Linked DNA regions of Homo sapiens: region 1 is linked to region 2. Evidence: fine-mapped expression QTL. A gene starts in region 2. The other region holds a variant in brackets. All regions are shown on one strand. Distances are between the middles of the regions.

Region 1 (5,383 bases), 36 kb after region 2:
TTTACGCCAGGCACGGTGGCTCACACCTGTAATCCCAGCACTTTGGGAGGCCGAGGCTGGCGGATCTCTTGAGGTCAGGCATTCGAGACCAATCTGGCCAACATGGTGAAACCCCATCTCTGCTAAAAATACAAAAATTAGCCAGGCATGGTGGCATGTGCTTGTAATCCCAGCTACTTGGGAGGCTGAGGCAGGAGAATTACCTGAACCTGGGAGGTGGAGGTTGCAGTGAGCCAAGATCGCGCCAGTGCACTCGAGCCTGGGTGACAGAGCAAGACTCAGTCTCAAAAAAAAAAACAGAGAGAGAGAGAGACTGGCTCTTTCAAGGCTCACATATTTATCTTTTCATCTTTTTGTTCTAATTTTGGGGAGTTTTTTTTTAAATTTATTTTCCAATTCATCTATTGAAGTTTTCTTTTGGGACTTAGTTTTTAATTCTAAGAGGTCTTTTATGTGCTTCCTGTTCAATTTTAATGATGTTCTATCCATGTTTTAAATATACAGTATTTTTGTTACTTCTGAAAGTAATAATTATAGGTAGTTTCTTTTTTAAAGTTTTCTTCAACGTTCTTCATTATCTCTGTTTCCCCTGAGTGCTATTTTTTGTTTGTTTGAGTCTCTGTCTTTCTTGTTGGAGTGTTTTTCAATGTATCGTGATATTTTAAATTATGTTCGTTTTGAGTAAGACCTTAAACATTTGAAAGCTTTGTGTGAAGTGTCTGTGTTTCCTTCCAGAGTGGTTGTACAGTGAGCTCCCTTTTTGTGGAGAACACTCAAACAATTCTATCTGGAGGTATTTTCTCTGAGATTCTTCAGCTTCCTCAGAGAGACCCAACAATTCGGGCTGGCTACATAATTTACAAGGCCCAGTGCAAAATGAAAATGTGAGGTCTCCTGTTGAAAAGTCAGAAAAAAAGTTCAGTTAGAAATATTAAAATAGGTCCAGCGCGGTGGCTCAAGTCTATAATCCCAACACTTTGGGAGACCAAGGTGGGTGGTCTGAGGTCAGGAGTTTGAGACCAGCCTGGCCAACATGGTGAAACCCCGTCTTTACTAAAAATACAAAAATTAGCCGGGCATGGTGGCAGGCACCTGTAATCCCACCTACTTGGGAGGCTGAGGCAGGAGAATCACTTGAACTCGGGAGGCAGAGGTTGCAGTGAGCCGAGATGGCACCACTGCACTCCAGCCTGGGCGACAGAGCGAGACTCCATCTCAAAAAAAAAAAAAAAGAAATAGTAAAATATAAATCTTTTTCTTCTAAAAAGTCTTATTATTTATAACATGTAATGAGGTAACGGGTACACATATATAACAGCATAAACTACAAACAGCAAAGAAATAATGTTTTGGTGTCCTAATTTTATGTAAAACAATAAACCATAATACTTTAATAATGTATTAAATTGATTGACAAATCTTTCTGGCTTTTTTTCCGCAAGCTCATTTATTAAGTCATGAAAATTTATATTTTTGCCAACTTCATTTTCAATCTAGGTAATTGAAAGTGATGTCAATCATTCTTGGCAAATGCAAGATCTCAAATGATTTGTTATAATTTTTAGTCTGAAGAAGAAAACCAGGTGGAAAGAATAACATGAACAAAGGCAAAGAGATGGGAAAGAGGGAAGTAGTAAAACAGAACGGACAAGTCAGTGCGGGAAAATTTACATTAAGACAGTGAGGTGGCTCCTGCCTATAATCCCAGCACTTTGGGAGGCCAAGGTGGGAGGATCTGTCGAGCCCAGGCATTCAAGACCAGCCTGGACAACATGGCAAACCCCAACTCTACAAAAAAATACACAGATTAGCCAGGCATAGTGGCGTGTGCCTGTAGTCCCAGATATTTGGTAGGCTGAGGTGGGAGGATCACTTGAGCCTGGGAGGTTGAGGCTGCAGTGAGCTGTGATCATGTCACTGCACTCTGGCCTGGGTGACAAAACGAGACCCTGTCAAAAAAAAAAAAAAAAGAGAGAGAGTCGTAAATACCAAGCACAAAACTATAAGAAATGACAAAGGTAGGGCACAGGAGCTATAAGTGGAAGAGAAAAGGGGAGCAACATGAGATGTAGAAAATTTCTTAGAAAGCAACTGTCTGAAACTCGATCAGACTCATCAGACTGAGGTTGTCAGTATTGAATGTAACCAAGAGGGTATAGGGGAAAAAATAAAAGAAATGATGATTAGAGATGTGCAGTGATGTCTGAGAGGTTAATTTCAGTAAAATAGTGGGACCAC[A/G]ATTCAGAAATAAGAGGTGAAAAGTACAAGAAGCAATGCAGAAAAGTGCTATGGAAATGGACAGCCAATAGAAGGAATGCAGAAATATGAGCAATCTACAGACAGAAAGTGAATATAGAGACCACAGTCTAGACCCTTCACTTTACAGATGTGGAAACTGAGGCCCGAGGAGGTGACCAATTCCTTTACTTAACCTGGTTAGCAATGGAACTTAGACAGAAAACCAGTACAGATGAAATGGTAATTCAGGAAGGATAAGGATCAAAGGAACACTTTCTGTCTCCAAAGAAGATTCCCTTTAATGCCTCAGTTTTCCTTTAGGACCTCCCCTCCTTCTTCTGATACTATGATACTTCATTGCTGAAGAAAATGCAATGCTGATTTGAGCAAGGGAAAGAGAAATCTGTCTATCATACTTTTTTATTCTTATAGGTATTATGCATTCCTGAAGCCTGGAAGACAGGAAGAGTTACTCATACTAAATTTGAAATGCATCACTATAATAATCCTGATAATACTCCACCCTGTCCAACTCCAGAGATAACAAATAACCCCACAATAACTATCCACCTACAGAAATGGACACAGTATGGTAAAGCCATTCATTAAAAAAAAAAAAAAATCACCCCATTATGGATAATTCACAATGAGCTGGCAAACATCATTTGGCTATGAGCAAAGCTCATCAAGAAACACCCTAATAATGTGTATATAAAGGCAAACCAAGCTGTTTGAGTAGGCCGTTCACCATCAGAGCATCACCGCAGAAACAAAGGCTCCAGCCTCCGGACACCATGTCTGTGCGCTTTTCTTCTACCTCCAGGAGACTTGGCTCTTGCGGGGGCACTGGCTCTGTGAGGCTCTCTAGTGGGGGAGCAGGCTTTGGGGCTGGAAACACATGCGGTGTGCCAGGCATTGGAAGTGGCTTCTCTTGTGCTTTTGGGGGCAGCTCATCTGCAGGAGGCTATGGCGGAGGTCTGGGCGGGGGAAGTGCTTCCTGTGCTGCCTTCACAGGGAATGAGCACGGCCTCCTCTCTGGCAATGAGAAGGTGACCATGCAGAACCTCAACGACCGCTTGGCCTCCTACCTGGAGAATGTTCGAGCCCTAGAGGAGGCCAACGCTGACTTGGAGCAGAAGATCAAGGGGTGGTATGAGAAATTTGGACCTGGTTCTTGCCGTGGCCTTGATCATGATTACAGCAGATATTTCCCAATTATTGACGAACTTAAGAACCAGGTAAGAAACGCCATGGCGTGAGTGTTAGCACTCCTGAGAGTGTTTAGCCACTCACAGATGCACAAATGTATAAGCTATCACAATAACAGGGCTTTGCCCTCAGCTTCTAAATTTTAGGAGTTCATTTTCAATATTAAAAATAATTTCTAATAAATTCTAATATTTGAACATGGCACGTCCATCATGTAGTATTAGGTATATGCTTTTGGTAATATTAAAATATCAAAAGCTGTCCAGTGTCTCCAGTTATATATTTATAGGCTTTCCCATAGAAAGAGCTTTTTTTAATGCTTGGGGTGGGAAATACAAGAGACCATACCCAGCCAGGCACAGTGGTTCAGCCTGTAATCCCAGCACTTTGGGAGGCCAAGGCAGGTGGATCACTTGAGATTAGGGGTTCAAGACCAGCCTGGCCAACATGGTGAAACCCTGTTTCTACTAAAACTACAAAAGTTAGCCGAGCGTGGTGGCACATGCCTGTAATCCCAGCTACTTGGGAGGCTGAGGCAGGAGAATCACTTGAATCTGGGAGGTGGAGGTTGCAGTGAGCCAAGATCGTGCCACTGCACTCCAGCCTGGGCAACAGAGCGAGACTCGGTCTCAAAATAAAAGACAGAGAGAGAGACCATACTTAAATTACCCATCTTCAAAAGAATGGTCTGATTATTAGAGACAGATGCCAGAAATATTACTATAATTTCATGGGTAATTTTATTTCAAGGAACTTTGAAATGCATCTTAAATATTTCCTCAATCTTAACTAACTTTTCATTTGTCAGATAATTTCTGCAACTACCAGTAATGCCCATGTTGTCCTGCAAAATGATAATGCAAGACTAACAGCTGATGACTTCAGACTAAAGTAAGTAGAGCTGAAGATAAATGGGAAAAAAAAGTTGTCTAAGCATTTTTTCTCCTTTATTCTTCTAAGTTATTTGACGTTGTCTCAAGCCTTTGTTCTTGTTTATTCATGTATTTGTTTTAAACAAAATGCCTGTTAGAATGAGTAACTAGCTGAGCAACAAATTTTACTTGGGAAATTTCGGGACTAACAAAAACGAGTGTCAAAGTCATATGAGAAAGAATTTTGGCTATTCCCATTCTCTTGCTTCAATGAAATGTATTTATTGCATGATAGATGACCTAACTGAAATGTGTTTTTTTAATTAATTAATTTATTTATTTATTTATTTATTTTTTGGAGACGGAGTCTCGCTCTGTCGCCCAGGCTGGAGTGCAGTGGCGCAATCTCGGCTCACTGCAAGCTCCGCCTCCTAGGTTCACGCCATTCTCCCGCCTCAGCCTCCCGAGTAGCTGGGACTACAGGCGCCCACCACTGCGCCCGGCTAATTTTTTGTATTTTTTAATAGAGACGGGGTTTCACCGTGATCTCGATCTCCTGACCTCGTGATCCGCCCGCCTCTGCCTCCCAAAGTGCTGGGATTACAGGCGTGAGCCACCGCGCCCGGCCTGAAGTTTTAAGTATTATCTTAGTAGTTTTACCTCAAAGCTTAGTCTGAGTTGTATGATGATCTAAAAAGTGATGTGCCATGTCTAATGACTAATGATGAAACTTCCAAATACTTTTCTAAGGTTTGAAAACGAGCTAGCGCTTCACCAGAGCGTGGAGGCGGACATCAATGGTTTGCGAAGAGTCCTGGATGAGCTGACCTTGTGCAGAACGGACCTGGAGATCCAGCTGGAAACTCTCAGTGAGGAGCTCGCTTACCTCAAGAAGAATCATGAGGAGGTAGAAGCTCCACCCGGCTGGCTCTCACAATCGCCTCCCTACCAAATTTTAAAACTAATTTCAGATGATAAATATAATGTCTTAAATTAACATTCAAGAAGGAACCTGTCAGTTTCTCCATAAGGCTTAGATTGTTTGAGACGCTTCTATTCATTCT
Region 2 (5,383 bases):
ACATAAAAGTGCAGAGTGCATCTATGTCACTACAAAAGCCATATCTGCATCTGACCTCTTCTCAAATAACTGTGCCTCTCCCTCCAGATTCTCAACCTAACAACTGATAATGCCAACATCCTGCTTCAGATCGACAATGCCAGGCTGGCAGCTGATGACTTCAGGCTGAAGTAAGTTAAGTGATCGTTGTATAATACTATCACAACGAATACATCAGTGGTTTTTAACAATGACTTGGGATGCCCTCAATAACATTTACATTTTTCTGAATTCACCCAAAGTTAAATAGTATTGGAGTTATCTGAGAAATTTTCCATGTCAGTGTTACCTTTTTGGCAATATTAAAGGAAGAAAATGCATTTTAAAGTAACTGCTAAGGTTTTTTCCATTAAACCACTATTACTTCTAAGAGAACTGTACATGACAAATATTGCCATTACATGAGATCAACTATGTAGCTGCTTTTTAAATAGTCTCTGCCCAGATACATCTCCCCTATATAAGTTATAACCAGTATTGATATCATGCTTGTTTCAGGTATGAGAATGAGGTAGCTCTGCGCCAGAGCGTGGAGGCTGACATCAACGGCCTGCGTAGGGTGCTGGATGAGCTGACCCTGACCAAGGCTGACCTGGAGATGCAAATTGAGAGCCTGACTGAAGAGCTGGCCTATCTGAAGAAGAACCACGAGGAGGTGACACAAAAGTTATACTTTTCCCAGCCAAAAGAGAGTTCATTATGGTCCTCGTGTAGCCAATAAATCTTTCTGTTCCTCAAACAGGAAATGAAAGACCTTCGAAATGTGTCCACTGGTGATGTGAATGTGGAAATGAATGCTGCCCCGGGTGTTGATCTGACTCAACTTCTGAATAACATGAGAAGCCAATATGAACAACTTGCTGAACAAAACCGCAAAGATGCTGAAGCCTGGTTCAATGAAAAGGTAAAGTAATCTTCCTTATAGTGAAACTCATGGAGGTTTTATCATTTCAGAATTTCCTCACCCTTTTCCTTGTTTTTAATACTCTAGAGCAAGGAACTGACTACAGAAATTGATAATAACATTGAACAGATATCCAGCTATAAATCTGAGATTACTGAATTGAGACGTAATGTACAAGCTCTGGAGATAGAACTACAGTCCCAACTGGCCTTGGTATGTTAACTCTCATGAAATGACTTCAACTTTATCATACAAAGTTTCATGCTCACCTAAGAATATGCAATGCAACAAAAAAATGCAGAGTTGGAGGTAAGAAAGAGAAAACAAAGTGAAGCTCATGTTAATGGAGGAAAAGTACTACTAGTGTTGATCTAAAAGTGCTGAAACTGAAATGGTGCCATTAAACATACAACAAATTCTGTTCATTTTCTTATTCTTCTATATAATGCCTTACTAAATAATCAAATAAGCGTCACCATACTCAACTGAACAAGGAAGTCACTAAGCCACAAAAAAATCCGTTTCAGAAACAATCCCTGGAAGCCTCCTTGGCAGAAACAGAAGGTCGCTACTGTGTGCAGCTCTCACAGATTCAGGCCCAGATATCCGCTCTGGAAGAACAGTTGCAACAGATTCGAGCTGAAACCGAGTGCCAGAATACTGAATACCAACAACTCCTGGATATTAAGATCCGACTGGAGAATGAAATTCAAACCTACCGCAGCCTGCTAGAAGGAGAGGGAAGGTAAATTTTAAAATGAAAAGTTATCCCAGTTTCTTTTATTCAATATTCCAGATAGCAAGGCTTATCTAAACCCCAAGAAGATGCCAGAGAATGAGAGGAAGGGAGGAGAGAGGGTAGAGTACAGAAAAAGGAGTACGCAACCGCAATCTCACTTTCTCATGAATTTGGCCCAAAATGATTCTTAAGAGTTCTGTGAACTTAACATTGTTTTCAAAGGATGGGTTTTAAAATATATACCTGGCAGGGTTTTATTTTTTCAACACGTTTTGCTTATTTTCTAAATTAACGGCAACTGGAAAGCTACCCACCGTTTTCCAACGTTAGAGATAACCGAATGTGACCTCACCCCGTTTAGTTCCGGAGGCGGCGGACGCGGCGGCGGAAGTTTCGGCGGCGGCTACGGCGGCGGAAGCTCCGGCGGCGGAAGCTCCGGCGGCGGCCACGGCGGCGGCCACGGCGGCAGTTCCGGCGGCGGCTACGGAGGCGGAAGCTCCGGCGGCGGAAGCTCCGGCGGCGGCTACGGGGGCGGAAGCTCCAGCGGCGGCCACGGCGGCAGTTCCAGCGGCGGCTACGGTGGTGGCAGTTCCGGCGGCGGCGGCGGCGGCTACGGGGGCGGCAGCTCCGGCGGCGGCAGCAGCTCCGGCGGCGGATACGGCGGCGGCAGCTCCAGCGGAGGCCACAAGTCCTCCTCTTCCGGGTCCGTGGGCGAGTCTTCATCTAAGGGACCAAGGTCAGCAGAAACTAGCTGGGGTAATCAGAATTAGTTTTAACTTCCTGTGATGGTTTTTTTGCGCTTTAAGCTCTAGAGTTGTTTTAAAAAATTAAAAATCTTAGAGACGGTTCCGTTTGCATTTGTTCACAAACTACTCTTAACACCAGCCGTGAAAAATGGCATGATCAAAATGTCATACCTTAAGCATTTTTTTGGGCTTAACAATGTAAAGTTGAAATTTCCTTCTTTTTACAATATTTGCTTGTTAATTACTAAGGATCCCTACAGACTGTTTAAAATTTTTTTTCCATCATTCACACAGATACTAACAAAACCAGAGTAATCAAGACAATTATTGAAGAGGTGGCGCCCGACGGTAGAGTTCTTTCATCTATGGTTGAATCAGAAACCAAGAAACACTACTATTAAACTGCATCAAGAGGAAAGAGTCTCCCTTCACACAGACCATTATTTACAGATGCATGGAAAACAAAGTCTCCAAGAAAACACTTCTGTCTTGATGGTCTATGGAAATAGACCTTGAAAATAAGGTGTCTACAAGGTGTTTTGTGGTTTCTGTATTTCTTCTTTTCACTTTACCAGAAAGTGTTCTTTAATGGAAAGAAAAACAACTTTCTGTTCTCATTTACTAATGAATTTCAATAAACTTTCTTACTGATGCAAACTATCCCAATTTGTCAGAATTTATCTTTACTTAAGTACATAATACTCTTTAAAATTAAAGATTAGTAACCCATAGCAGTTGAAGGTTGATGTATCCAGAAATTCGGAAGACAGAACTATTGTCATGCCTTTTCTAAGTTTTTTAATCATGTATGTTCAGACCACCGTCAGTAAATTCACTGAGTAAAGTCTGTAAATCCCCAATATTACTCTTTAAGATACACAATATGTGGAAGGCTCCCAGCTCTCTGGCTTTAAATTATTTCAATCCTGGAAATTCTGGAATATCTCAAATAAAACCCCCAAAATAATAATAATTGGAAATTTTATATTTTCTAATTACCTGACTTCTCACCTTTGCCTTTTCTTACTTTCTTCCAGTTACTATATTACTTCTTCCCAATTGTTATATAGCTTGACATATCTTCTGACACCACCCAAGTAAAATCATATCACCCCCAACAAAATTATTTGATGTCCATCAGATGAACGTGAGAAACGCTGTCAGGAAGTAGTGATGCCAGTGTAACCAAAAGGACACCACTAGGTCTCTGCCTTCCCCAACTGTGCCCAGTGATCAGGACTAAAGACCTTGTACTTTCATAGCCCAGTCACATCCCTCAGCCAATAAGAACCCAACCAACATTACTTAGTACTCTACTGGGGATCCTATGAAGGGAATAAGCTGGCGTGTCCCTTAGACTACCTTGTGTCCTCTGATGAGTTCTTGGATTACTCATGTCCACCAAGTAGCAGCTTTCCTCAGTATCCTTGATTTGAGCTCCAGATCTGAGCCCTGATCCCCATGCCATTTGTTGGCACTCCACTCTGTAGACACTACCCTCTGTACCCCAAATTGATGACAGGAGCCTTGTTTCAATGGGATGGATTTCCCTATAGTCAAGGCTTCATAACCTGCTTAGCACCAAATATTAGCACAGCCCAGAGGCTCTCCATTTTCGTTCCTGTGCCTCTAAATGCCTAAATGTCTAAATGCTCACATGCCTCTGGATATTTGTACCAGCTAACCTTGGGAGCCAGTCTTCTCAGATCCACTATTGAAGTCCCAACACGCCTCACTGCGTAGAGCCCTGAAACACTGTGAAGTCCTTACGTCGCTGTATAAGGACTCTGAACTCCTACTGTGTAAATAGTGCTATACTGCCTGCTGTTCAGAAACACCATCTTTTAAAATATGTATTATAAGGTTAACCAAATCCCCGGGACCTATTGTACTTATAATCTGAGGTTACCATTCACCTTATTCTGAAGAAATAGATTTTTTATATTCAATACCACTGATACGAGGCAAGTACACATATGTTACTATGAGATAGCAGTGCTTGCTGTTAAGTTTGTCTCTTCTACCCATTCTGCCCTCCTCCCCCAGGCCACAATCTTAGCAGTCAGAGTCCTCTATGTGGTTGGATGGTGACCCAAACTTTCATTCCTGAAAAGTCTGCATACATCGTGGTCCTGTCTTCTTACCATTTCAATCTTGCAATACCTCCTTAAACAATTATTTATATTCTCTCTGATAAAGTAAATACTTTATCTCAGATAAACAGCTGCTTTCTTGATTGGACTTGGATAACTATGGTTTGTTTTTGCTTTTTTTTTTTTTTTTTTAATGAGACAAAGTCTCACTGTGTTGCCCATGCTAGTCTTGAACTGGGCTCAAGCAATCCTCCCACCTCAGTCTCTGAGTAGCTGGGATTATAGGCACATGCCGCAGTGCCCAACACTATGGTTTAATAAAGATAATCTGTCTAAATAAGCCACTTGTCTTTAATAAGGACATTGGTATTTATAGTAAAAAAAATTACAGAATTATTTTTAAAAATTATTAAATAGCACAGGGCACTATTTTTACCAAATAAATTTGCATGTACCTATTAATCAAAAAATTCTGTATGCATTCTTACAGATTCTAAAGTCATTACAGAATCCTGCTATTTAAGCAGGGTAGTGCCTAATTAGATTGGCAGAGCCAATTCGGCACCCATGTCAAAAAATATTACACGATAAAATCCTGTTTCCCCAAAGATGTTCTCTTATGATGCTAAAGGCCTAAAAGCTTTGCACCCTAATCTTGGTGCCCATGATGGCTTGATATTTTGCTTGGGAGTGAAGAAATAGCTTTGTTAGGGTCATCTTTATCAGGGAAGTAACTCGATTAAGGTTAAATAGGATGCATCTAATATTTCTCATCTATATTGCATTTTGAGAATGGGAATTAGGGAAAGAGCTTATTCATGGTTTATGAGCATGCAACTGAAACACAGTGATCCCTGGACTT

The links.
Region 1: its variant is fine-mapped to the expression of KRT10-AS1 in esophagus muscle (GTEx, PIP 0.95).

Annotation. Positions count from the first base shown.
Region 1 is chr17:40,780,143-40,785,525 of GRCh38, reverse strand. It overlaps KRT27 (keratin 27), which reads left to right and starts at 2,976. Exons shown (of 8, transcript NM_181537.4): 1 at 2,976-3,476; 2 at 4,256-4,338; 3 at 5,070-5,226. The coding sequence starts at 3,033. The variant A/G (reference allele first, on the strand shown) is at 2,239.
Region 2 is chr17:40,815,822-40,821,204 of GRCh38, reverse strand. KRT10-AS1 (KRT10 antisense RNA 1) reads right to left here and starts at 2,060. Exons shown (of 3, transcript NR_160888.1): 1 at 1,997-2,060. It overlaps KRT10 (keratin 10), which reads left to right. Exons shown (of 8, transcript NM_000421.5): 2 at 88-170; 3 at 538-694; 4 at 782-943; 5 at 1,031-1,156; 6 at 1,471-1,688; 7 at 2,044-2,418; 8 at 2,723-3,088. The coding sequence ends at 2,729. RefSeq lists an enhancer at 351-1,550.